Homo sapiens: one gene and its partners. The protein of the gene in region 1 purifies or fractionates together with the protein of each later gene. This does not show direct contact. Each region holds a gene or a part of one and is shown in the gene's direction. Other genes may lie near its edges. The genes, in order: DUSP26, DCTPP1, ZNF99, POLE, DICER1, LRPPRC and PFAS.

Region 1 (3,097 bases):
TTCTAGACCAGCCTGAGCAACAAAACCAGACCCCATCTCTACTTATTATTTTAAAATAAAATAAATAAAATAAAAATACCCAAGTCTGGACAGAAAGACTCTGTTCCAGTAATAATATCATTCATGTATCACATATTTATTATTACATGCCAGTGCTACATACCAGGCACAATAGATGACTTCTCTGACCTTCCATCTATTGTGCAATGTCTCTGGGAAAAGGCAGCCACTGGAAGCCAGGAGCAGTAGGTAGGAAGCTGCAGTGGTTTCTCTTGAGACCAAGCAAAGCGGCAGTGCCTACAGAGATTCTGCAATTTGAAGGCTATGGAGAGAAAAACATCAAAGGAAGAGCCATCCCCACTTCTCTCCCTCAAAGTTATACAAGGATTTCTTTTGCTTCTTTGGTTTGTTTTGGTTTTGGTTTCTTTCTTTTATTTTTTTTTGGAGACAGTATCACTCTGTCACCCAGGCTGGAGTGCAGTGGCGCGATCTTGGTTCTCTGCAACCTCCACCTCCCGGGTTCAAGCGATTCTCCTGCCTCAGCCTCCAGAGTAGCTGGGACTACAGGCACACACCGCCTTGCCCGGCTAATTATTTTTTTGTATTTTAGTAGAGACGGGGTTTCACCGTGTTGCCCAGGCTGGTCTTGAGCTCCTGAGCTCAGGCAGTCCACCTGTCTCGGCCTCTCAAAGTGCTAGGATTATAGGTGTGAGCCACCGTGCCCAGCATTGTTGTTGTTTTTGAGACAGGGTCTCACTGTTGCCCAGGCTGGAGTGCAGTAGCCCAATCTCAGCTCACAGCAAACTCCGCCTCCCGGGTTCAAGCAATTCTCCTGCCTCTGCCTCCCAAGTAGCTGGGCTTACAGACGCCCATCACCACACACAGCTGATTTTTGTATTTTTAGTAGAGACGGCGTCTAGCCATGTTGGCCAGGCTGATTTTGAACTCCTGGCCTCAAGTGATCCACCTGCTTCAGCCTCCCAAAGTGCTGGGATTACAAGCATGAGCCACCGTGCCTGGCCTACAAGGATTTTTTTCACACACATTATCTCTCTTAATCTTCACAACAGCCCTGTGAGATAGGTATCACTCTCCCTGGGTTACAGATGAGGAGACTGAAGCTCAGAGAAGTTGTGCCTGGCCAAGGTCACACGGGTTGTAAGTAGCAGAGCCCGGGCTTGGAGGCTCAAGTTCAGTGCTCTTTCTGCTTAAGGAGTTTGCACTGGACAGGGCAACTCAGTTTGCCCTGAGATATGACTGTGGTGCCCAGGGGTGTCTGCCACCAAGCTGAGGGGTCTGGGCCGGATGAACACCTGAAGGTGACGTCATAAAACAGGGTAAATGTGGCCGGGCATGGTGGCTCACATCTGTAATCCCAGCACTTTGGGATACTTAGGCGGATGGATCACGAGGTCAGGAGTTCAAGACCAGCCTGGCCAAGATAGTGAAACCCCGTCTCTACTAAAAATACAAATATTAGCCTGGCATGGTGGTGGGCACCTGTAATCCCAGCTACTCGGGAGGCTGAGGCAGAGAATTGCTTGAACCCGGGAGGCAGAGGTGGCAGTGAGCCGAGATCGCGCCACTGCACTCTAGCACTCCAGCCTAGGTGACAGAGCAAGACACCATCTCAAAAAAAAAAACAAACAACAACAACAACAACAAAAAAAAACACAGTCACAGTAAATGTGAGCCATGGAATATCTGGCAAAAACACAAGACGGTTCTGGGTGTCAACAAGAGTAGAGACATAGGGGAGTTAGGTGTGGAAGTGGATGTCAGAACCATACTATCTCAGAGTGAGCAGGACCGATGAAATGAGCAGAACAATCTGCCTGACATTCATTTCCCCTCTGCAGCATCCATGGCTACATGGCCATCTCCTCTTTCTGCCTGAATACCCCAGGGACAGGAAAACCACTCTCTCTCGAGGTTCTCCACCCTTTCCTCAGCTAGACTCCACCATTAGAATGTACTTCCTTGTATGAAATTGAAATCAGCTGGCCAGGCACAGTGGCTCACGCCTATAATCCCAGCACTTTGGGAGGCCTAGATAGGTGGATCACAAGGTCAGGAGTTCGAGACCAGCTTGGCCAACACGATGAAATCCCATCTCTACTAAAAATACAAAAATTAGCCGGGCATGGTGGCAGGCACCTGTAATCCCAGCTACTCAGGAGGCTGAGGCAGGAGATTCGCTTGAACCTGGGAGGCAGAGGTTGCAGTGAGCTGAGATTGCACCATTGCACTTCAGCCTGGGAGACATAGCAAGACTCTGTCCCACCTCCCAAAAAAAAAAAAAATGAAATCTGCTTCCCTGGGGCTTTAATTCCTTGATCCTCATTGTACCCTTGAGAACCCTACAGATCCAAGACAATCTCAATTCCAGAAAACACACTTTCAGTTTTGTTTTGTTTTGTTTTGTTTTTTTTGAGATGGAGTCTTGCTCTGTCACCCAGGCTGGAGTGCAGTGGTGCGATCTCGGCTCACTGCAAGCTCCGCCTCCCAGGTTCAGGCCATTCTCCTGCCTCAGCCTCCTGAGTAGCTGGGACTACAGGCGCCTACCACCACACCCAGCTAATTTTTTCTATTTTTAGTAGAGATGGGGTTTCACCATGTTAGCTATGATGGTCTTGATCTCCTGACCTCGTGATCCGCCCGCCTCGGCCTCCCAAAGTGCTGGGATTACAGGCGTGAGCCACCGCGCCCGGCCGCACACTTTCAGTTTTATTATGGCTATTTTTACCCCATCCCCTTAGTCTTCTCTTCTCCAGGCAAAACATCCCCTATACCTTCAACCATGGCTCACAGGACAAGACTCCAAGTCATTGCCCATCTTGGTTCCTCCCTTCTGGATCACTAGTAAGTAAAGTAGTGTCCTTAGGCCAATAGTAGGATCCAGGAGGCCAGGCATGGTAGCTCACGTCTGTCATCCCAGCACTTTGGAAGGCCGAGGCGGGAGGATAACTTGAGGTCAGGAGTTCAAGACCAGCCTGGCCAACATGATAAAACCCCATCTCTACTAAAGATACAAAAATTATCCGGGTATAGTGGCATGTGCCTGTAATCCCAGCTACCCGGGAGGCTGAGGCAGGAG
Region 2 (3,939 bases), on another chromosome or scaffold:
GTATCCAATCTTAACTGCTGGATAATATCATTTGTATAAATATACTTCCATGTAGCCATTCTTCCGTTGATAGTCATTTTATTTTCAATTTTTTTCACTCTTAGAAACAAAACTGTAATGAACTTCTTGCATGTGTCTCTCTGCACATATTCATTAATTTCTCTAGGGCATATACCTAGAATTGCAATTGTCACAGCCTTGGGATTTTAATTTCCAAAATCTGACTCTGCCTCTTCCTGCGCTTTCTTACGCTTTCACTTCCAGCAAGCTGGAAGCCTCTTTAAACGTGGAAATCAGAGATAGTAGCCCTAATAAGGGTACAATAATAAATCATTCTTTGCAAGACTACACCTGTTCTAGGGTTTCATAAAGATCTCTGCTCCTCCCATGGCCAATAACTCAGTGGTTCTGATTTGAAAGCAGCAACCCTGTGACTCGCCACCTCGCGTATTCCCTGGTGTGAGTGGAGCCTGGAGTTCTCGTGTGTGGGGTGGAGGAGCCGTGCTGGGGACCCATGAGGCTGGAGAGGCCGGCACAGGCCAGACCATAAGGGGCCACGTGTTTCAGGGCAATGTACGTTGCGCTGGGGCCTACTGCCTCCCTTAGGACAGGGATGGGGCGACCTCCATCGTTTCAACCACAGGACACAGCGATGGCGGGGAGCTGAAGTCCTACTGCCGTCTGATCTTACTCCGCTCTTCCCCTTCAATCCCATCCAAATAGTGTGGGGGTTGGCCTCGAGGTTTCTCAACGTCCTTAAGCCCTGATTTAATACCTATGCATAGGGCCTTTCATTTATAGGGTTTTCCACCTGACGGGCCCTCTTCCGCTGCCGTTTCGCTTTGGCGCCCTCTGGCGCCCATAAACGAAGTGACGCGCCTGCGCTTCCCCCACCCTCTGCCCTTCGTCTCTTCCCCAGGTCGAATTGGTACCTCTACCTTTAGACACAGGGCCTAGCGGAAGAATTCCAGGGCCTAAGACTAGAAACGCGCGCTTGAAGCTCCCTCAGATTGGTCCAGTGAGGGAAGGGGAGGGCTGTAGCAAACTCCACAAAAGTCATTGGTCTCTTTCCTCAGGCTCCGCCCCGTGAGGCAATAGAGAACTCCCGTAATTGGTCGGAGCTCTGGAGGCGGGGCTTCGAGCGTGGCTCGTGGGTTTTCCGTGAAGTCGCGGTGCAGCGGTGGGCGGCATGTCTGTGGCCGGTGGGGAGATTCGTGGGGACACGGGGGGAGAGGACACTGCTGCTCCCGGCCGGTTCAGCTTCAGCCCGGAGCCCACGCTCGAGGACATGTAAGCAGGCCTGGCCCAGCTCGGGGTGGGGAAGTCGCCCCTTTCTCCCGCGTTTTGGGGAGGGTTCCTCCACGTGGTCGGGAAGCGGGCTGGCAGCGGGGCTCGGGTCCTGGCTCTGTGGGCTGTCCCTGGGTGAGCCTTCTTACCTCATCTGCAAAATGGGCGCAGCGGTGCACACCTGAGGCAAGGGAAATTGGGTGGTGCCTCCGAGTGGTAACTAGGAACGCCCTTCAGCCTAGCCCTGGGAAGATACCGGCACCAGATACCGCCTCTGCTCTCCAGGCGCCGGGGGTACGAGAGGGGCAAACGAAGTGCTGAGAGGTGGGAGACGTTATTTTTTGCTGGAGGAGGTCAAGAAAGGCTTCTTAGAGGAAGGGTCTGTGGAACTACCTTCTGTAAGAGAAATTGCATTTTGATGTGCGGCGATTCCAGGTGGAGGAAACTGCAGAAGTAGCAGCAGGAGATGGAATAATGAAGAGGGTTTTGTTAGTTTTGGCGAGATGTTAAGGGCAGTTCAGGGGCACGCCCATTTTATAGATGAGGGAACCAAGTTCCGGAAAGAGGAAATGACCTGCACAATACCATCCAATGAATTAGTTGCAGAATCTCCTGGTCCCAGGCCCCATTACATACTACGGGGGTAGCTGCCTCTGGCCCCTGCATCACCCTCTAACCCGGAGACTTGGACTTACACTCCTTTGTCCTATTTCAGCCGCCGCCTCCATGCTGAGTTTGCTGCGGAACGAGACTGGGAACAGTTCCATCAGCCTCGGAATCTCCTCCTGGCCTTGGTTGGGGAAGTGGGGGAGCTGGCAGAACTCTTGTGAGTAGATGGAAAGCTTCCTGGTAGAGTCTGAGTTGTGGGGGAGGGGAGGGGAGCATTTATTTGGTCTTCAAACATTCATGGGTTCAGTTTCCCCTCCTGATTGCTAGGCTCTTTGCTGTTGTTGGGATGCAGAGAGGACTCACGGGTCCCTGCCCTCTAGGGGCACTCAGCCTCCTGGAAGAGAGAGGTGTGAGGTGTGAAAGCATCAGGACAGGTCCCGTCTAGGAAGAAGCAGTGGCAACAACCCTTTTCCCTTCTTTTGTTTTTTGTTTTTTTGGCTTTTTTTTGAGACGGGGTCTCGCTCTGTCGCCCAGGCTGGAGTGCAGTGGCTCAATTTCGGCTCACTGCAACATCCGCCTCCTGGGTTTAAGCAGTTCTGTCTCAGCCCCCCGAGTAGCTGGGACTACAGGTGCCCCCCACCACGCCTGGCTAATTTTTGTATTTTTAGTGGAGACGGGGTTTCACCATATTGGTCAGGCTAGTCTCAAATTCCTGACCTCAGGTGATCCACCCGCCTTGGCCTCCCAAAGTGCTGGGATTACAGGGGTGAGCCACCACGCCTGGCCCAACAACCCTTTTCCTCTGCCTCTGGGGCTGAAAGGAAGGTATTCTGTAGAGGACCTGCCTGTGGCATTCCAGACATGGGAACTACATTTGCAGGGGCAGTGAGGCAAGAAAGGGCAAGTTCAATTCAGGGAGAATCTGACGCTCCTTCATTGTAAGCATCTCAGGAAAAATCAGGGATTTGGGATCTGTTTTCTCTGATGTGTCCCAAGTGCCCAGCGCATAGTAGGCGCTCAATAGGCACACGTTGGATGAGTGATAGGGCTGTGGAGGAGAGGGGTGGGAGTTGAACCCACAAAGATATGATTAGGGCTAGAGTATGATGGAGAGTTTGGACAGAAGACCTGACCAGATATGAGTGTTGGAAAGGTCACTGTGTCTACAGGGTGGATTGGATGGATCACTGAGAGAATGGGGCAGGGGACACCAGAGAGTTGGCTGGTGTAGACCAGGCAAGAGGCGATGAGCCCTAGACCAGGACAGTCATTTTTTTAAGAGAAAAGGTCTCACTCTGTTGCTGAGGCTGGAGTGTACTGGTGTGATCATAGCTCACTGAAGCCTCAGGAGCTCAAACGATCCTCCCACCTCAGCCTTCGGAGTAGCTGGGTCTACAGGCGTGCGCCACCACCAAGCCTGGCTAATTTATTTTTACTTTTTGTAGAGATGGGATCTCTCGCTGTTGTTGCCCAGGCTGGTCTCAAACTCCTGGTCTCAAGTGATTCACTTGCCTCACCATCCCGCAGCACTGGGGTTACAGGTTGAACCACTGCACATGGCCTCATGACAGATTTATGAACATCACCTATGTGCTAGGTCTTCTAGAATTGAGATATGGCCTGGAACAAGGCAGAAAGGTTTCCACCTTCACAGTGGAAGGAGATTGACAGTAAATCAGTAATCTCATATTAGAAGATCTGGAATTATGACAAGTTCTATGAGGAAAAGAACACAAGGTGATGACCCAGTCTGGCCAACATGGTGAAACCCTGTCTCTACTAAAAATACAAAAATTAGCCAGGCATGGTGGCGGGCGCCTGTAATCCCAGCTACTCAGGAGGCTGAGGCACAAGAATCGCTTGAACCCAGGAGGCAGAGACTGCAGTTAGCCAAGATCACACCATGGCACTCCAGCCTGGGCGACAGAGCAAGACTCTGCCTTAAAAAAAAAAAACAAAAAAGGGGCTGGGCGGGGTGGCTCACACCTGTAATCCCAGCACTTTGGGAGGCTGAGACGGGCAGATCATGAGGTTAGGAGATCA
Region 3 (4,218 bases), on another chromosome or scaffold:
TGTAATTGGTGCCTATACTCACACAGTCCCCCATACCACAGGAGAAAACAGATAACCACAGCCTGACCATTAGGGCCAAGGACAAATAGAAAAGTAAGTTTTCCTTTAATCTATTTTCTTCATATCTAAACATTGGAGGTCAAGACTGTGCACAGATTTGAAGACACAGAGATTTCTTCTCCTGTGGCCTTACCATCCTTAGTTCACCTTCTGATCTCTGGAATAAAGGTAGGCAACAGGTGGCCAGCAGTGGTCTACCTGTGGTTGTTTTTTCCTGCTGTCCTGTGCTTTATTTATGGCTACTATCTGTTCCTCCCTCAGAGCTGAAGAGAGATGTTGGTAGGGAAAGGCTCTTTTTCCATCTTTGGCAGAAAAGGTTTGTTCAGGCCCTTCCCTCTCCTAAGGTCAGAGCTGCACTTCAATGTGGCAGCTACTGGCCATGTGTGGCGACTGAGTGCCTGGAATGTGGCTGGTCTGAACTGTGATGTGCTGGAAAGGTAAAATACAGAGTTAGTTTCAAAGATGAAGTTCCAAAAAATATCTACACTTCATTTATAATTTACATTTTGCTTACGTATTAAGATGATATTTTGGATATATTGGGTTAATTAAATTGCTACAATAAATTCCACCTGTTTTTTTTTTTTTTAATTTTTAAAGTTTGGCTACTAGAAAATTTAAAATACAATTTTATTTCAGAGGATTGCCTTCTTTTTAAAACCTCAGGCAATCTGATGAAAAAACCAGAAGCCAGGAAGGTCATAAACTCTGAAAATTTTAGATAATTGTTATATTCTTTTCATTTGTGAATAACCATATAATATATTATTTATAAAAGAATGTGACCTTATACAAAAGGTTAAATGCAAATACCCTCTGGGGTTGGCCTGGCTCAGTTCAGGAAGGAAGCCCTGCCTGAAAAGGCTGCAGCCTAGACTGTCATCCTTTCCTTTCTTTTTCTTTTCTTTTCTTTTTTTCGTGACAGAATCTCGCTCTGTCATCCAGGCTGGAGTGCACTGGCGCGATCTCGGCTCACTGCAACCTCCGCCTCCTGAGTTTAAGCAATTCTCGTGCCTCAGCCTCCGGAGTAGCTGGGATTACAGGCGCCCGCCACCACACCAGCCTAATTTTTATTTTTAGTAGAGACCGGGTTTTGCCATGTTGGCCAGGCTGGTCTCCAACTCCTGACCTCTGGTGATTCACCCGCCTCGGCCACCCAAAGTGCTGGGATTACACGCGTGAGCCACCGCGCCCGGCCCGTCACTCTTCATTCAGCTCAGCATCAGATCACATCTTCTGTCACTCAGGGCCTGAGGAGGCGGGGATTTAAACATTATCCAATCAGGGACTCTGGGCTGGGAACCGTCCAATCAGGCACTCAGCTGGAGCGGAAAGGGCGGCTTGTGGGATGTGGCGGGGCCGTTGTTTCTGGTTCCAGCTGGAGCTCCGGATCTCGTTTTTACTGCTCTGTGTCCTTAGCCTCTGTGGCCCTGTGACCTGTAGGTATTTGGAGATCCACAGCTAGGACGCCAGGACCCCCTGGAAGCTTAGAAATGGTGAGAGTGCCGGGTCCGATATCCTGAGAAGGGGAAGGGGCTGACTGGAACCGGTGGAAAGTGGCTGTGGCGGGACTCAGGCCTCCCCTCAGTGAGCTCCACAGTCTGCGCCCCGAGCTCTTGCCCAGCTCGGCCTCAGTCTCCTTCAGCCATAAGATGGCGGCTGCGCTGACTGCGGGACCCCGGGCGACCTGCCTCCTTCCTGCACTGTGACTATGCCCTGGCCTGGAGCCCTCTCTGGGCCGCTCTTCACCCGCAGCGCCTCCTCTCTCACAGATTGTGCAGGGACCACGGGAGGGGCGTCAGGGGAGAATCCTGACTCCGGGTGCGGGTTCATGAATGGGAAGAGCTTTGGTCCAGTGAGGTTTCCAGTCCCTCTTTTCTCCTATTAAAAATTGATGGCAGTCATCACTAAAGTAATAAAGGATTTAATCAAAGAGTGATTCAAAAATGGCAGAGCACCCAGCTGTGGTTTGTAGTTTATGGTCTATGGAAGGGATTTGACGGAAAGAGTTTTATAAGGTGCATAATGAAGAAAACCAAATTCAGTAATGGGTTATGTACAGTTACGTAGATTCTTAATTTGTACAATCAAGATGGAAATTTCCCGTTTATATAATCAGAGGTTAATTGTAGTTTATAGTTGGTTAAGCCTGAATTTTGTTTCCCCCAATGTAGTAATTTACAAAAAAAAAAGCACTTGAATTATTAATATTTTTTTCTTTCTTTTTTTGAAACGGAGTTTTGTTCTTGTTGCCCAGGCTGGAGTGCAGTGGCGCGATCTCGGCTCAACGCAACTTCCGCCTCCCAGGTTCAAGCGATTCTCCTGCCTCAGCCTCCCGAGTAGCTGGGATTACAGGCATCCGCCACCACACCCGGCTAATTTTTGTGTTTTTAGTAGAGACGAGGTTTCTCCGTTTTGGTCAGGCTGGTCTCGAACTCCCGACGTCAGGTGATCTGCCCTCCTCCGCCTCCCAGAGTGCTGGGATCACAGACATGAGCCACCGCGTCCGGCCGAATTAGATTTTTTAAAAAGTAGATTATCAGGCCTGGCTCGGTGGCTTACACCTGTAATCCCAGCACTTTGGGAGGCCGAGGCGGGTGAATCACGAAGTCAGGAGTTCTAGACCAGCCTGGCTAACATGGTAAAACTCCGTCTCTAATAAAAATACAAAAATTAGCCGGGAGTGTGGCAGATGCCTGTAATCCCAGTTTCTCGGGAGGCTGAGGCAGATAATCGCTTGAACCCGGGAGGCAGAGGTTGCTGTGAGCTGAGATTGCGCCACTGCACACCAGCCTGGGCAAGAGAGGGAGACTCCCTCTCATATTAAAAAAAAAAAAAAAAAAAAAAAGGCCAGGTGCGGTGGTTCATGCCTGTAATCCCAGCACTTTGGGAAGCCGAGGCAGGCGGATCACCTGAGGTCGGGAGTTCAAGACCAGCCTGACCAACATGGAGAAACCCCATCTCTACTAAAAATACAAAAATTAGCCAGGTGTGGTGGCACATGCCTGTACCTGTAATCCTAGCTACTCGTGGGGCTGAGGCAGGAGAATTGCTTGAACCCGGGAGATAGAGGTTGCGGTGAGCCGAGATCGCGCCATTGCAGTCCATTCTGGGCAACAAGACCGAAACTGTCTTAAAAAAAAAGAAAAAAAAAAGTAGATATCAGGCACTAGAGCCACCTCAGTCTATTTGCCTGCCACTTAATTATTTTTAATTATTTTCACACTCCTCAGATGACTGATTTTCCCCTCCATTTTTTACAGGTATCTCAAGCAGAGTATTATGTCTACTCCCAAACCCCAATTCCTGCAGCCTAACTCTGGCTTGCAATAAAATACTAAACTTCCAGTTCATAATGTCAATTTTCCCTCTCTGATTCACATTACTATTTGTCCTTAGTGTACATTTTGATACTGTATTTTATTTTTTAACAAAGCATTGGATGGTACTTTTCATAATATTTGTTTTCTGTTTGTGAATATTTCCTAAGAGAAGAAAGCAAAAAATAATCCCCTGACACTGTGTTGTAAAAAATCTTTGTGCCGCTTTTTTTTTTTCCTCCTTGCTCCACAGATTTTAGCAGAATGTTTTGGGGTAAAGGTAAAGGTTTTCCTTTGGAAACTTTATGATGTGTTTTCAGCCATTCTTCAGTTTTTTCCCTGGTCCTGGGTTTCAGTACTGTCTGGGAATTAGCTAAAATATTCCCCATGGCTATGTCTGCTAGAGTGTCTAGTGAATATCAGCTCCTGGTCATTTTCTCCAGTAGGACAACCTGAGGTGTGGAGTGTAGCCTTTCAACGAAGAAGGCAGATGCCCTGGGGTTGAGAGGTCTCTCCTGGTATACTCTTCCTTTGAAAAGCTAACCCTTGAGACATTAAGATTGTCTTCACCCAACCCAGCTTCCATTTTTTGAAGACACATTGCTGGTCAGCCAATCAGATGCTGGTATTGCGGGGAAAACACAGAAATAATTTCTGCCCCCTGCATTCTTTAAGGGAGCAGAACAATAGTGAAATATAATGAAAAAATAGTGAAAGAAAAATAGTGAGAATCTGTGAAATCAAAAATAGTGTCCCAAACGACAAAAAAAAAAAAAAAAAAAAAAAGTGACCCCAATGAGATGGTGTAAGAACTTGAAAAGTTCTTACCTGGGGCACT
Region 4 (2,540 bases), on another chromosome or scaffold:
TTTAAGATGGAGTCTCGCACTCTCGCCCAGGCTGGAGTGCAGTGGCGCGATCTTGGCTCACTGCAAGCTCCCTCCCAGGTTCACGCCATTCTCCTGCCTCAGCCTCCCGAGTAGCTGGGACTACAGGCAAGCGCCACCACACCTGGCTAATTTTCGTATTTTTAGTAGAGACAGGGTTTCACCATGTTAGCCAGGATGGTCTCGATCTCCTGACCTTGTGATCTGCCCACCTCGGCCTCCCAAAGTGCTGGGATTACAGGCGTGAGCCACCGCACCTGGCCAAAAAGTAGTTTCTTGAGATGAAAGTGAACATTGTGGAAATGACAAAGGATTGAGAATATTCCATAAACTTAGTTGCCAAAGCAGCAGCAGAATTTGAGAGGACCGACTCCAATTTTGAAAGAAGTTCTACTGTGGGTGAAATGTTATCAAACAGCATCACATGCTACAGAGTCTTTCATGGAAGGAAGAGTCAGTTGATGCAGCAAACTTCATTGTTGTCTTGTTTTAAGAAATTGCCACAGCCACCCCAACTCTCAGCAATACCACCCTGATCAGTCAGCAGCCGTTTACATTGAGGCAAGACCCTCCACCAGCAAAACGATTGCGACTCACTGAAGGCTCAGATGATCGTTAATATTTCTGAGCAATAAAACATTTTAAAATTAAGGTACATACATTGTTTTTTAGACATAATGCTGTTATGCACTTAATAGACTACAGTATAGGGTAAACCTAAGTTTTGTCTGGGTAGAGTGACTCACACCTGTAATCCCAGCACTTTGGGAGGTCAGGGTGGGTTGACTGTTTGAGCCCAGCAGTTCAAGACCAGCCTGGGCAACATGGCAAAACCCATCTTTACAACGATTACAAACATTACCTGGGCATGGTGGCGCATGCCTGTCGTCCCAGCTACTGGGAAGGCTGAGGTAGAAGGATCAATTGAGCCCCAAGAGGTCAATGCTGCAGTGAGCCATGATTGTGCCACTGCAGTCCATTCTGGGTGACAGAGTGAAATCCTGTCCCAAAATAAAAAAAATCACATAGCTTTTTTTTTTTTTGAGATGGAGTCTCACTCTGTCACTCAGGCTGGAGTGCAGTGGTGCAATCTTGGCTAACTGCAACCTCCACCTCCTGGGTTCAAGCGATTCCCTGCTTCAGCCTCCCAGGTAGCTGGGATCACAGGTGCACCCGCCACCATGCCCAGCCAATTTTTGTATTTTTAATAGAAATGGGGTTTCACTGTGTTGGCCAGGATGGTCTTGAACTCCTGACCTCAGGCCATCCACCTGCCTTGGCCTACCAAAGTGCTGGGATTACAGGCGTGAGCCACCACAAATCACGTAACTTTTATATGTACTGAGAAAACAAGCGTGAGCCAAAAATCATGTAACTTTTATATGCACTGAGAAACCAAATAATTTGTGTGATTTGCTTTATTGTGATGTTAGTCCATTGAGGTGGTTTGAAACCGAACTTGCCATATCTCCAAGATACGCTTGTATTCAAGAACCATTTGTTGAAAAGACTATTCTTTTTCTATCGAATCATCTTTGTACCTTTTTCCATAACTTAGTAACCTTATCTATGTGAGTCTCTTTCTGGATTATGTATTCTTTTTTTCGATCTTGCATTCAATTTGCTAATATCTCGTTGCGCATTTTTGTGTCTGTGCTCAGGCTGTTATTGGTCTGTAGTTTCTTAGTACGGTCTTTGGTTCTAGTATCAGGGGATGCTGGCCTCATAGAATGGGTTGAGTGCTCTCTCTCTTCAGTGTTTTGAAAGATACTGTGTAGAATCAGCAGCATTTCTTCCTTAAATGTTTAGTAAATTCCCCAGGGAAGCCTGTCCTCACCGATGGAAAACTGCTAATGTAGAGAAGTCAGCTGAGGCGTCTAAAGGGACTAAGGAAGGGAGGAAAGGACACCAGGAAACTGTAGCCTAAGGTCCAGAGGGTTCTGGTCCAGACAGAGCAGCAGGGAGGCCCCGGGAGCTCCTTCCCGATGTGGGCTGTGGTCTCTGCAGGTGCTGTCCCTGGACACCAACATCACAAACCAGGTGAATAAGCTGAACCGAGACCTGCTTCGCCTGGTGGATGTCGGCGAGTTCTCCGAGGAGGCCCAGTTCCGAGACCCCTGCCGCTCCTACGTGCTTCCTGAGGTCATCTGCCGCAGCTGTAACTTCTGCCGCGACCTGGACCTGTGTAAAGACTCTTCCTTCTCAGAGGTGCGGCTGAGCTCCAGCGGGCCCTTCACTGTGGAGCAGAACATCCGAGGGCACTGCGGTGTCTTGAGGGCTTCTGCAGCTCCAGCTCTGTGGGTCACACCTGCTGCCCCTCTGACTCACATGGATTGGCAACAGGCCCCTTCCCAGGCCTCCCCACACCATGTTCGGAATGTTGTCCTAGGAAGGGCTCAAGTGCAGGTGGGAGGCCAGAGTGCGTGCAGCTGCACTCAGGAGACTCGCCCGTCACCAGGCGCTTCTCACAGCCCCTTCCTCTCCTGAGATCCTGCCCATGGCACTGTGGTCTGGAGGCTGGG
Region 5 (3,500 bases), on another chromosome or scaffold:
TGGAAAAGCTGAATGGTATTTCATTGTATGAATATACTGCATTTTGTTTATCCATTCATCTGTCCATGGCCACTTGGGTAGCTTCTATCTTTTGGCTACTGTGAATAATGGTGCTGTGAACGTAGGTATACAAATAATTCATTGGAGTCCATGCTTTCCCTTCTTTTAGACATATACCTCAAAGTGGTCACATTGTTTCTTGATCTTCAAAACACTAGACTAGACTCAGAATTTATTGCAGTATGAGTTTTCTCAGGGTTCCTCCAAGCAGTGATAATTTCCTACAAACAACTCCTCTGTCAGTAAAATCTGTAATCTCTCTGAAGCCCAGGGTCGACTCCTTTTTACGATCTTGGTTCCAATCATAGTGTCTGGCAGGTATTCAAAAAACTGATCAAACATGGAGTGATGTGCTTTATTGAATGCCAGAGGAAGATATTGGTGAGGTCTTTAATTTGTATAAAGAGAAAGTTGGAGCCAAGTGACTTATTTTGTTTACCTTTTGCTGTGCTTTTTGGACATTCAAGAGCTTAGTTCATCCTGAAAGCCCAGTGTATGTATTATACTCGCTCTTATTCACAGGTTTCTTTGCAATTTACGACTTGCCAAATGACTAGTCTTCTGAGGCAGCATTATTTTCTTGGTATTCCACCTCCTTAGCCTGTGGGGCTTGGACCTTTTGATTTTTTGATGGCTAGTTTTCACTTCTTCCAAATTTCTGCTAAGACTCTAGTATTAGTACATTTATTTAATAGTTTATGATGTCTATTTTGAGAAAGGATTTGAAATGGTCTTATAATAGGAAAGTATTAGAGTACTATGAAAATGGTAAAGGTTGGTAGTATAGAATGTGGAGGCAGAGAATTAGATGAATGATTGGGGCAAGGAAAGGTGAGTGCTGCATGTAACTCACGTTGATTAATGAAAGGAAGCATACCAATTTGAAGCAGATTTTTCTCTTGTATGAAGAATAATCAATCTTTTGGATTATTACATTAAATAACATTAGCAATATATGGAGAAAATGTTTTACATTTTACAAACGATAGAGAAACATTTTTTCACATGCCATTTTAGAGAAACTGGATAAAAGCCTCAGGCATAATAGAAAAGCTTTAGTAATACAGGTGTTCACTGTTCCAGTGGTTTGATTCATTAATTTCTTTTGGGTGGTGTCCCTCGAATATCAGTTGTCTCATTCAGGCTGTTGACAGATGCTAAATAACAATCCATTCAGGAATAAGCTCTGTGGACAACATGGGCAGTGAGGATTTTCCAAATAGGAATTCTCACCCAGTCTTTTTTTTTTTTTTGAGACGGAGTCTCACTACGTTGCCCAGGCTGGAGTGCAGTGGTGCGATCTCAGCTCACGGCAAGCTCCGCCTCCTGGGCTCATGCCATTCTCCTGCCTCAGCCTCCCGAGTAGCTGGGACTACAGGTGCCCGCCACCACACCCTGCTAATTTTTTGTATTTTTAGTAGAGATGAGGTTTCACCGTGTTTAGCCAGGATGGTCTTGATCTCCTGACCTCGTGATCCTCCCGTCTCGGCCTCCCAAAGTGCTGGGATTACAGGTGTGAGCCACCGTGCCCAGCCCTCTCACCCAGTCTTTAGGAACGTGTGTTGGTCTAAAAAGTAAGACTGGTTGTATCGTGGTGTATACTTGATGAATTAATACAGAAAGAAAAAGATTATTTTTGAGATGTAGCTGGTGAAATTGACATTTTCAGTTATGTAATAAAGCCTTTGTTAAAATAATTCTGAGTGCAAAATGGCTTCCTCATCTAAAATTGTCAATGAATTGTTGGTACTCCTTTAACATGCAGTTACCTCAATATGCATTTTAAATAAGTGACTAAGAAGATGCTACAAAACATTCTCTGAGGATGTCAGTAAGACTGTTACTAGAAGTAAGACATGACAGGCTTAAGTTTGGCCTTAGAGTTTTTTCTTTTTGTTTTTTAGGCTTATAACAGCATTACATGTTCTTGGTTGTGTTAAGGTTTATGGAATAGTAAGGATTAGATTCTTCATGCATGTTCATTACCAGACATGGTGCTTGACATATAGGAGACACTCCGATTTGTTGAGTGAGTAAGTTAATTTATAATACTTTTTGAAGTATTTAGAAGCTAACACAGTTTTGTGGGGAAGAATATTGCTTGCATATTAAGGCTTTTAAAAAGATTATTACTATTCTGCTTTTGGACAAATCATGCTACTTGGTCCTTTTTGCTTTGTGAGGTACGTATGATTATGTGCACAGAAACATTGCAGACTGAGGGAAGTGTTAAGAATCGTGGGAGAAAATCGCCGTCAAAATTGGAGTTTAACTGTATTGCAGACTTTCTCCTTGTTGGCACAGACTAACTCTGTTGTGCTTGTTCGTTCTTTGACAGCTCAATGTATGCCATAAAGCAGGGGTTTTAACAACACATTTGAACAATTCTTGAGGATTAGAAAATGAGGTCTGTTAACCAGTTCAGAATTTTAAGAAAACAAACCGGTTGTACTTAGAGAACTTGAATAATGAGAGAAGACTCTTAGTTTAAAAACTGATCTTTGACATGATGTAGGAAGGTTCTTTGATTAAGAAGTTAAATGACCCTGTTTGAAGGGAAAAAGAAAGGTAGTAGTCGTATTTAGTCGTATTTAGTCCTCTGAGATGTTTCGAGATTGCAGGATTTCTGTCTTTCCTCTTTTGGTAACATCCTGGGAGGTGAGATTAACATGATGAACTCACAGCCTGTCCGCCTCTTATGCATCCTGCTGCCCAGCCATCACTGTCAGTTGCTCTGATTCATGGTATTTTAAGTTCTTTCCACTTTGCAGAGTTAAATATTAATGTTTTATCATAGCTTTGTAGGGATGCTTAAGAGCAAGTGTTTGGCGTCAGAGAGACCAGGGTTCAAATCCTGATTCTTCGACTTTATAGCCGATGAGCACTGGGCATATGGCAACGTCTCTTGAGTCTCAGCTTCCTTGTCTATAAACTGTCGTAGTGGTGTTTGCCTCTTGAGGTTTTGAGAAAAAAAAGGAGTTTCTTAAACTCTCATGGTACATAACTAGCATTTGATAAAATTAATGTAATATTTTTCTTTTAAATACGTGTATTAGAGAAAATTTTAACATGCAATAGTCTTAATGTGATTAGATTATATTGTGAGCCCCCAAATTATCAATATTGAAATGTATGGTCTAGTAATATAATGGAGGATGAAGGAAAAGAGGGCTTGAGAACAATATTTTACAGACAAGTTTTCGAGGAGGATTATCTATACTGGTTCAGCTATCTTAGTTGGTCTCTGTAGTAGTGATACCAAATGTAACAGTGCCTTAAACGTCTCTTAACTTTCCCTAAATAACACATTCTTCATCTGCTATGCATGAATTAACACATCATCCTTGAAATCATACTTCAATTCAGTGTATAAAGCCAAGTGTTTTGTAAAATAAACCTCAAGTTAGGTTTTATGTTTCCTTATGATTAGATTCAGGTTT
Region 6 (3,500 bases), on another chromosome or scaffold:
TTTTACTCGTGGTCCTTCTGTGTTTTCTCAACATTTTCATTCTCTTTTGTGACCTTTTCCATTTTTCAGGGCATTACTTACCTATCTGATGATGTTTCTCCCAGATATGGACCATCTACTACACATCCACCTGCTTGAACTATAGGTACTTCAGAGCCAACACAGCTCAAATTGGACCCCTCCTTCTTCTTTCATCTGTTCCTCTTGTGTTCCCTATTTTCGTGAATGTTGCTGTTTCTACCTGCCTTCCAGAAAGATCCTGGATATCTACATATTTGTTTTCCCATTCATCTCTCACTCCCTTCACCCCCCATTTATTGATTGCACAAATGATTAAGCCCTGTTAGATCTGCTTCATTTGGAATGCATCCCTTTTCCTCCAGCCCCTTCATCATTCCCTAGTCTCCCTGATAATTTGATCATGTCATTTTCCTGCTTACACTTAAGCATTGTGGTGGCTCCCATTGGGTCCAGAAGGAGATCCAGACTCTTTAGCACAGGTGCTTTATGAGCTGGAGTTGCCTCTGGAGCGTCAACTCTTCTGAGTTCCCTCCCATGGCATCCTGCGTTCTAGCCGTACCAGACTACTACTTTGAAGTGCTCTACAGCAGGGCTTCTCAAACTCTAGTGAGCATGATTGCCTGGGGCTCTCGTTAAACTGCAGATTCTGATTTTGTAGGTCTAGTGCTTGTCTGTGGATCTGTAAGGCTTTGATGGGCCATGTTGTATATTTCCTTGCCTTTGAGTGTAATGTTGACTCTTGGAATGTGTCTCCCCTTCCCCCTTAGTCAGGTGTCCCCCATCTCTGTTGAACCTTAACTTGACTGCCTCTCCCATTTGACTGGCTCCTTTCTTGTGCCTCCTCTTAGACCGTGTATCACTAAAGCACCCATTAACACTATGACGTGCACTCACCAACACTCTGGAGCTGGCTGTAAGTTGCTTGAAGGCAGATACTGTGTCTTACTCCTTTTGCTTTCCCTGGTGTTTAACTTTGTGGCATATAGTAGGTGTCAAATGTTTGTTGAGTGAATCAATGAAAATCTTAAGACATTGAAGAAGGAATATGGTAAACTGGAGGAGATTGAAGGGATGCTTAACCCACCCATGCAGTGCAGTGTGTCTACACAAATTCACCCTGAGCTTGATTTCCAGGAATGTCCTATTTGAGGACAAATGAGTATTAGTGAGTGAAATTATTAGACATTAGTAATCTGTTTTCAAAATTGTAGCACCAAGAAGTATATCCTTTTACTTTGTAATATGTGGTCTTGCTCTTCATTTTCCCATCTCAGTACATCTATTTTTCAAATAGATGCTTTCTGGAAAACCAGCTTTTACTCTGTTCTCTTTGAGGTGATAAATACTCTTGCTTTGTCACATACATTTTCCTTGCATTTCTGGATCAGAGCTGCTTTGTGTGTGTATTCTTTGTGTGATGGTTTTTAGCATAATACTTGTATACTTCAGAGGAAAGATAAGCTTTGAGCTCAATCTGTTTGGAAGTAGATCTAGACTAATGATTGGCCTAAAGGTGAAAATTACATATTGTTCTTTGATGGGATGGTGTGATTTTTATTTCTAAAGTTGGAAGAAAACTTTTAGAAAACTCTCATTTTAGAAAAATCTTCTGCAAATATTAAGAATCTGATGGGTCCGGCTGGGTACTATTGTTCACACCCATAATCCCAGCACTTTGGGAGGCCGAGGCGGGCAGATCACTTGAGGTCAGGAGTTTGAGACCAGCCTGGCCAACATGGTGAAATTCTGTCTCTTACTAAAAATACAAAAACAAAATTAGCAATGGTGGCGGGCGCCTGTAGTCCCAGCTACTCGGGAGGCTGAGGTGGGAGAATGGCATGAACCTGGGAGGCGGAGCTTGTAGTGAGCAGAGATCAGGCCACTGCACTCCAGCCTCAGTGACAGAGTGAGACCCCATCTCAAAAAAAAAAAAAAATAAAAGTATCTATACATAAGTTAGCCAGGCGTGGTGGCCCATGCCTGTAATCCCAGCTACTTGGGAGGCTGAGGCAGGAGAATTGCTTGAACCCGGGAGGTGGAGGTTGCAGTGAGCCGAGATCACGCCATTGCACTCCAGCCTGGGCTACGAAGCGAGACTCCATCTCAATTAAAAAAAAAAAAAAAAAGAACCTGATGGGTCCTTTGGGGTTCTGAAATCTGTAACATTCGGCCTCTGCTCTGTGAGTGTAGATTTATCAATCACAGGGCTAGACAGGCACATGTACAACTATTAGACGTGCTGTCCATAAGAGAAGAATATAATATTGTGGTATTTCAGAGAGAGGAGCAGTGCCATTTGTTTTATGGCAGGGGGACATTGAGTTTTAGAGGACACATGGTAGTGGATATTCAGAATGTTCCAAAAATAGAGAAGAGCGTGAAGAGACTTGGAGGCCGTTTATCCCGTGTAGCTGTGTGGGATGTGGTGGAAGTTGATTTCTTGAGGCTACCAAGATTGCTTAGAAGGTAGGTTAGTTGATGATTGGAAGCCGTTGGAGGATTTTAAGTACAGATTTTGACAAAGTTTATGTAGATTATAGGAACGTGGGGATGGAACAACACTGGTATTGCAAATTAGCAGTAATAGGCCTTCAACGAGGTAGTAAAGAACTGACGAAAAGATCCGTTTCTTGAGAGAAAGAGAACAGAAGATTGGTGAGAGTGTTAGCAGAATTAAGAAAAGTAGATTTGGGGATTAGGGTAAACAATGGTACCTTTAGAATAGATGCTGATTACTTTCTTTTTTTTTTGAGATGGAGTCTCGCTCTGCCACCCAGGCTGGAGTGTAACGGGGCCATCTCGGCTCACTGCAACCTCTGCCTCCCAGGTTCAAGCGATTCTCCCACCTCAGCCTCCCAAGTAGCTGGGACGACAGGCGCATGCCACCATGCCTGGCTAATTTTTGTATTTTTAGTAGAGATGGGGTTTTGCCATTGCCATGTTGGCCAGGCTGGTCTCGAAATCCTGACCTCAGGTGATCCACCACCTCAGCCTCCCAAAGTGCTGGGATTAAAGGCATGAGCCACCGCACCTGGCCTGATGTTTATTATTTTCAAAGTGTGTTTGTAAACATAACATCATACAAACATTTCAACTTCCGTGGGTTATTACAAATTAGGAAACAGGGTTAGAAGTATAATTTATTCAAGACCTCAAGTTGAGATTCAACTCCAGATACCGTGATTCCCGTTTCTGAAATGTTTTACATATGTTGCAACATATGTTACAAGTGTTTTACATATGTTACACATTTGATCTTGTCATTTTCCTGTTTACAGTTAACTGCCATGGTAGTTATCATTGGGTGCAGAATGAGGTCCAGACTGTTGTGTTTTAGATGGTGAAGGGATTACTTATGGACAAAAACATTTTTTAAAAGGCAATATATGATATAAACTTGGGATTTAAAGACTTTCACAGGTAAGTAAACATAGAAGATCTCAGAATGTATCTGGAAGGGATCTTCATAGATTCTGAAG
Region 7 (3,500 bases), on another chromosome or scaffold:
CTCAAAAAAAAAGAAAAAGAAAATAAATAAATAAATAAATAATTTATGACATGATATCATCAAGCAATAAATTCTTAAACAAAAGCTTTGTGATCAGAGATCCTTTTTTGTTTGTTTGTTTTTGTTTGTTTTGAGACAGAGTTTCACTCTTGTTGCCCAGGCTGGAGTGCAATGGCTCGATCTCAGCTCACTGCAACTTCCGCCTCCCGGGTTCGAGTGATTCTCCTGCCTCAGCCTCTCAATTAGCTGTGATTACAGGCACGCATCACCACGCCCGGCTAATTTTGTATTTTTTTTAGTAGAGATGAGGTTTCACCATGTTGGTCAGGCTGGTCTGGAACTCCTGATCTCAAGTTCTCACTGTGTTGCCCAGGCTGGAGTGCAGCGGCTTGATCACTGCTCACTGCAGCCTCCGCCTCCCCAGGCTCAAGTGATCTTCCCACCTCAGCCTCCCTAGTTGCTGGGACTACAGGCACATGCCAGCACACCCAGCAAATTTTTGTATCTTTTTTGAGAGAGATGGGGTTTTTGCCATGTTGCCCAGGTTGGTCTCGAACGCCTGTGCTCAATCCTCCCACCTCAGCCTCCAAAGGGCTAAGATTACAGGTGTTAGCCACTATGCCCCGCCCAATCTGGCCTCTTCTTATAAGGGCAGATTATAAGAGGTTTGGTGAGATTAGTAGCTCATTCTTGAGAGTTCCACTTTCATGACCTAATTACGTCCCAGAGGCCCCACCTCCAAATACCATAACATTGAGGATTAGGGTTTCAATATATGAATTGGGAGGGGGAGATACACAAACATTCAATCCATGGCTGATACCATTTCTCTCAGGAAATTTTTCCTGACACCTGAAGTGCAGGATTGGTGTCCACAGTCCCCTGACCTTCACCACACGGGACTGGAAATGTCTGGGTACTTGGCCTTTCTCCCCCAATAAAATATAAACCCTGTGAGAGCAGACAGAGTTTCTGTCTTGATTCACAGCGGTGTTTCTAAGACCTTGACTGGGGCCCAGCAAAGTGCATGTACTCCAGGAACACGTGTCAGGTGTGTGCCTGTACACCTCCCTACCACATTAATAAAGACCACATTTTGCAAGATTCCTTAAAATCTCCAAGGTTACATTTTTCAGGTTACCTTGTTTCTCTAAATGTCCATATTACTTTCCCCTACCCTATCCATAACGCCGCAATTTTCCTTGAAATCTGAAATCAGTTCAACAGATAGGCCATAGTTAATGTTATTTTTATTTTATTTATTTATTGAGACGGAGTTTTGCTCTTGTTGCCCAGGCTGGAGTGCAATGGCGCGATCTCGGCTCACTGCAACCTCTGCCTCCCGGGTTCAAGCAGTTCTCCTGCCTCAGCCTCCCTAGTAACTGTGATTACAGGCGCCCGCCACCACACCCAGCTAATTTTATATTTTTAGTAGAGACAGGGTTTCACTATGTTGGCCGGGCTGATCTCCAACTCCTGACCTCAGGCAATCCACCTGCCTCAGTCTCCCAAAGTGCTGGGGTTACAGATGTGAGCCACCACGCCCGGCTTAGTTAATGTTATTTTTTAGGAACCTAATTCATCTCTCCAGCAAAGGACACATCTCTCCAGCAAAGGACACCTCTCTCCAGCAAAGGACACCTGCAGAGATGTCCCCAGTCCTTCACTTCTATGTTCGTCCCTCTGGCCATGAGGGGGCAGCCCCTGGACACACTCGGAGGAAACTGCAAGGGAAACTGCCAGAGCTGCAGGGCGTCGAGACTGAACTGTGCTACAACGTGAACTGGACAGGTTGGGCCCAGGTATTAGATTCTTGGGGGACATGCCTCGGTGCTGGGGGCAGTGTCTCAAGGTGTCCTTGCCCTGTCTCCCTGCAGCTGAGGCCCTCCCCAGTGCTGAGGAGACAAAGAAGCTGATGTGGCTGTTTGGTTGCCCCTTACTGCTGGATGATGTTGCTCGGGAGTCCTGGCTCCTTCCTGGCTCCAATGACCTGCTGCTGGAGGTCGGGCCCAGGTAAGTATCTCATCCTGCCCACCCCTTTCTTCTGCTTTCCTTTGCTTCCTCTTGTGATCCTTGGGAGATTTGCTTTTCCTTTGCTCTTTGCTACTTCCTGCCTAGGAAACCACACATGTGCTTTCCCCATTTGGGTAGATCCCTCCAAAGACCTAGCCTGCTCCAAAACATGTTCTCAAAGCAAAATAAATTAGATTCCAAGTTAAAATCAAACAGTTTTGGCCAGGCGCGGTGGCTCACGCCTGTAATCCCAGCACTTTGGGAGGCCGAGGTGGGGCAGATCACGAGATCAGGAGATTGAGACCATCCTGGCTAACACGGTGAAGCCTCGTCTCTACTAAAAATACAAAAAATTAGCCGGGTGTGGTGGCGGGCGCCTGTAGTCCCAGCTACTAGGCAGGCTGAGGCAGGAGAATGGTGTGAACCCGGGAGGCAGAGGTTGCAGTGAACCGAGATCACGCCACTGCACTCTAGCCTGGGCAACAGAGCAAGACTCTGCCTCACAGAAAGAAAAAAAAATCAAATAGTTTTGATGCTAGAGGACAGTTTTGGTTTGGTTTGAGTGTACTTTAAAAGCAGGTTTCTTGTTGCCCAGCCTGAGGCTGAAAGCCAATGGTGAGGGGATAGCGGTGGGAGGTTGTCCAGACAGCAGTAGGCAGGATCCACCCTCCCAGCTGAGGCCTGCCGGGGGTTCTCCAGTCCTAACCATCAGGCCCATTGTTCAGGCTGAACTTCTCCACCCCAACATCCACCAACATCGTGTCAGTGTGCCGCGCCACTGGGCTGGGGCCTGTGGATCGTGTGGAGACCACCCGGCGCTACCGGCTCTCGGTGAGGTGATGGGGAATCAGGAGGAGGAGATGAGCCAGAGATACAAGATTAGATCCTAAGCTCTAGAGAGAAGCAGGGACAGGTGCTCCTGGCTTTAGGCCTGCTCTGTATGGTCGTACAAGTTGTTCACTGCCTGAAAGTACCTGGTTGAGGGGTAAATGGGGCAGAAATCCAGCCTATGCTTCCTTTAATTTGTGCATCCTGGCATGGATTCATACCTGGAAAGGGCGTCTTTTTGTAATCTGAGAAAAAGTGCCATATGGTGTGGCAGTGGGCTAGCCTTGCATGACTAAGAGGGTAGGAAGGTGGACCATTTCTCTCCATTCTTAAACTCTTCACCCCTTGCCCTCTGTGTGTCTGCACCCCTAGTTTGCCCACCCCCCGTCAGCTGAGGTGGAAGCCATTGCTCTGGCTACCCTGCACGACCGGATGACAGAGCAGCACTTCCCCCATCCCATCCAGAGTTTCTCCCCTGAGAGCATGCCGGAACCCCTCAATGGCCCTATCAATATACTGGGTGAGGGCCGGCTTGCGCTGGAGAAGGCCAACCAGGAGCTTGGTGAGTAGCTGGGGAGGGAGATGTAGGGTCCAGGATAGGCCAGTAGGGGTGCTGAGATCTGGAATGTGGCTGCCTGAGTTCCATAGTCACCTCTTCC

The links.
Region 2: the proteins of DUSP26 (region 1) and DCTPP1 purify together in Homo sapiens (affinity purification with mass spectrometry, with the first as the bait; one large-scale study listed by BioGRID). This does not show direct contact.
Region 3: the proteins of DUSP26 (region 1) and ZNF99 purify together in Homo sapiens (affinity purification with mass spectrometry, with the first as the bait; one large-scale study listed by BioGRID). This does not show direct contact.
Region 4: the proteins of DUSP26 (region 1) and POLE purify together in Homo sapiens (affinity purification with mass spectrometry, with the first as the bait; one large-scale study listed by BioGRID). This does not show direct contact.
Region 5: the proteins of DUSP26 (region 1) and DICER1 purify together in Homo sapiens (affinity purification with mass spectrometry, with the first as the bait; one large-scale study listed by BioGRID). This does not show direct contact.
Region 6: the proteins of DUSP26 (region 1) and LRPPRC purify together in Homo sapiens (affinity purification with mass spectrometry, with the first as the bait; one large-scale study listed by BioGRID). This does not show direct contact.
Region 7: the proteins of DUSP26 (region 1) and PFAS purify together in Homo sapiens (affinity purification with mass spectrometry, with the first as the bait; one large-scale study listed by BioGRID). This does not show direct contact.

What each region holds. Positions count from the first base shown.
Region 1 is NC_000008.11:33,593,927-33,597,023, reverse strand, and holds part of DUSP26 (dual specificity protein phosphatase 26), read left to right. Parts: intron 1-3,097. UniProt on the Homo sapiens protein: Inactivates MAPK1 and MAPK3 which leads to dephosphorylation of heat shock factor protein 4 and a reduction in its DNA-binding activity. Inhibits MAP kinase p38 by dephosphorylating it and inhibits p38-mediated apoptosis in anaplastic thyroid cancer cells.
Region 2 is NC_000016.10:30,427,231-30,431,169, reverse strand, and holds the start of DCTPP1 (dCTP pyrophosphatase 1), read left to right. Parts: upstream 1-1,139; 5' UTR 1,140-1,189; coding exon 1,190-1,290; exon of another isoform or gene 1,291-1,315; intron 1,316-1,369; exon of another isoform or gene 1,370-1,581; intron 1,582-2,002; coding exon 2,003-2,113; intron 2,114-3,939. UniProt on the Homo sapiens protein: Hydrolyzes deoxynucleoside triphosphates (dNTPs) to the corresponding nucleoside monophosphates. Has a strong preference for dCTP and its analogs including 5-iodo-dCTP and 5-methyl-dCTP for which it may even have a higher efficiency.
Region 3 is NC_000019.10:22,781,352-22,785,569, reverse strand, and holds the start of ZNF99 (zinc finger protein 99), read left to right. Parts: upstream 1-1,418; 5' UTR 1,419-1,553; coding exon 1,554-1,556; intron 1,557-4,218. UniProt on the Homo sapiens protein: May be involved in transcriptional regulation.
Region 4 is NC_000012.12:132,625,803-132,628,342, reverse strand, and holds part of POLE (DNA polymerase epsilon catalytic subunit A), read left to right. Parts: intron 1-2,025; coding exon 2,026-2,226; intron 2,227-2,540. UniProt on the Homo sapiens protein: Catalytic component of the DNA polymerase epsilon complex. Participates in chromosomal DNA replication.
Region 5 is NC_000014.9:95,151,030-95,154,529, reverse strand, and holds part of DICER1 (endoribonuclease Dicer), read left to right. Parts: intron 1-3,500. UniProt on the Homo sapiens protein: Double-stranded RNA (dsRNA) endoribonuclease playing a central role in short dsRNA-mediated post-transcriptional gene silencing.
Region 6 is NC_000002.12:43,989,490-43,992,989, reverse strand, and holds part of LRPPRC (leucine-rich PPR motif-containing protein, mitochondrial precursor), read left to right. Parts: intron 1-3,500. UniProt on the Homo sapiens protein: May play a role in RNA metabolism in both nuclei and mitochondria. In the nucleus binds to HNRPA1-associated poly(A) mRNAs and is part of nmRNP complexes at late stages of mRNA maturation which are possibly associated with nuclear mRNA export.
Region 7 is NC_000017.11:8,252,289-8,255,788, forward strand, and holds part of PFAS (phosphoribosylformylglycinamidine synthase), read left to right. Parts: intron 1-1,570; 5' UTR 1,571-1,649; coding exon 1,650-1,791; intron 1,792-1,877; coding exon 1,878-2,013; intron 2,014-2,738; coding exon 2,739-2,844; intron 2,845-3,213; coding exon 3,214-3,403; intron 3,404-3,500. UniProt on the Homo sapiens protein: Phosphoribosylformylglycinamidine synthase involved in the purines biosynthetic pathway. Catalyzes the ATP-dependent conversion of formylglycinamide ribonucleotide (FGAR) and glutamine to yield formylglycinamidine ribonucleotide (FGAM) and glutamate.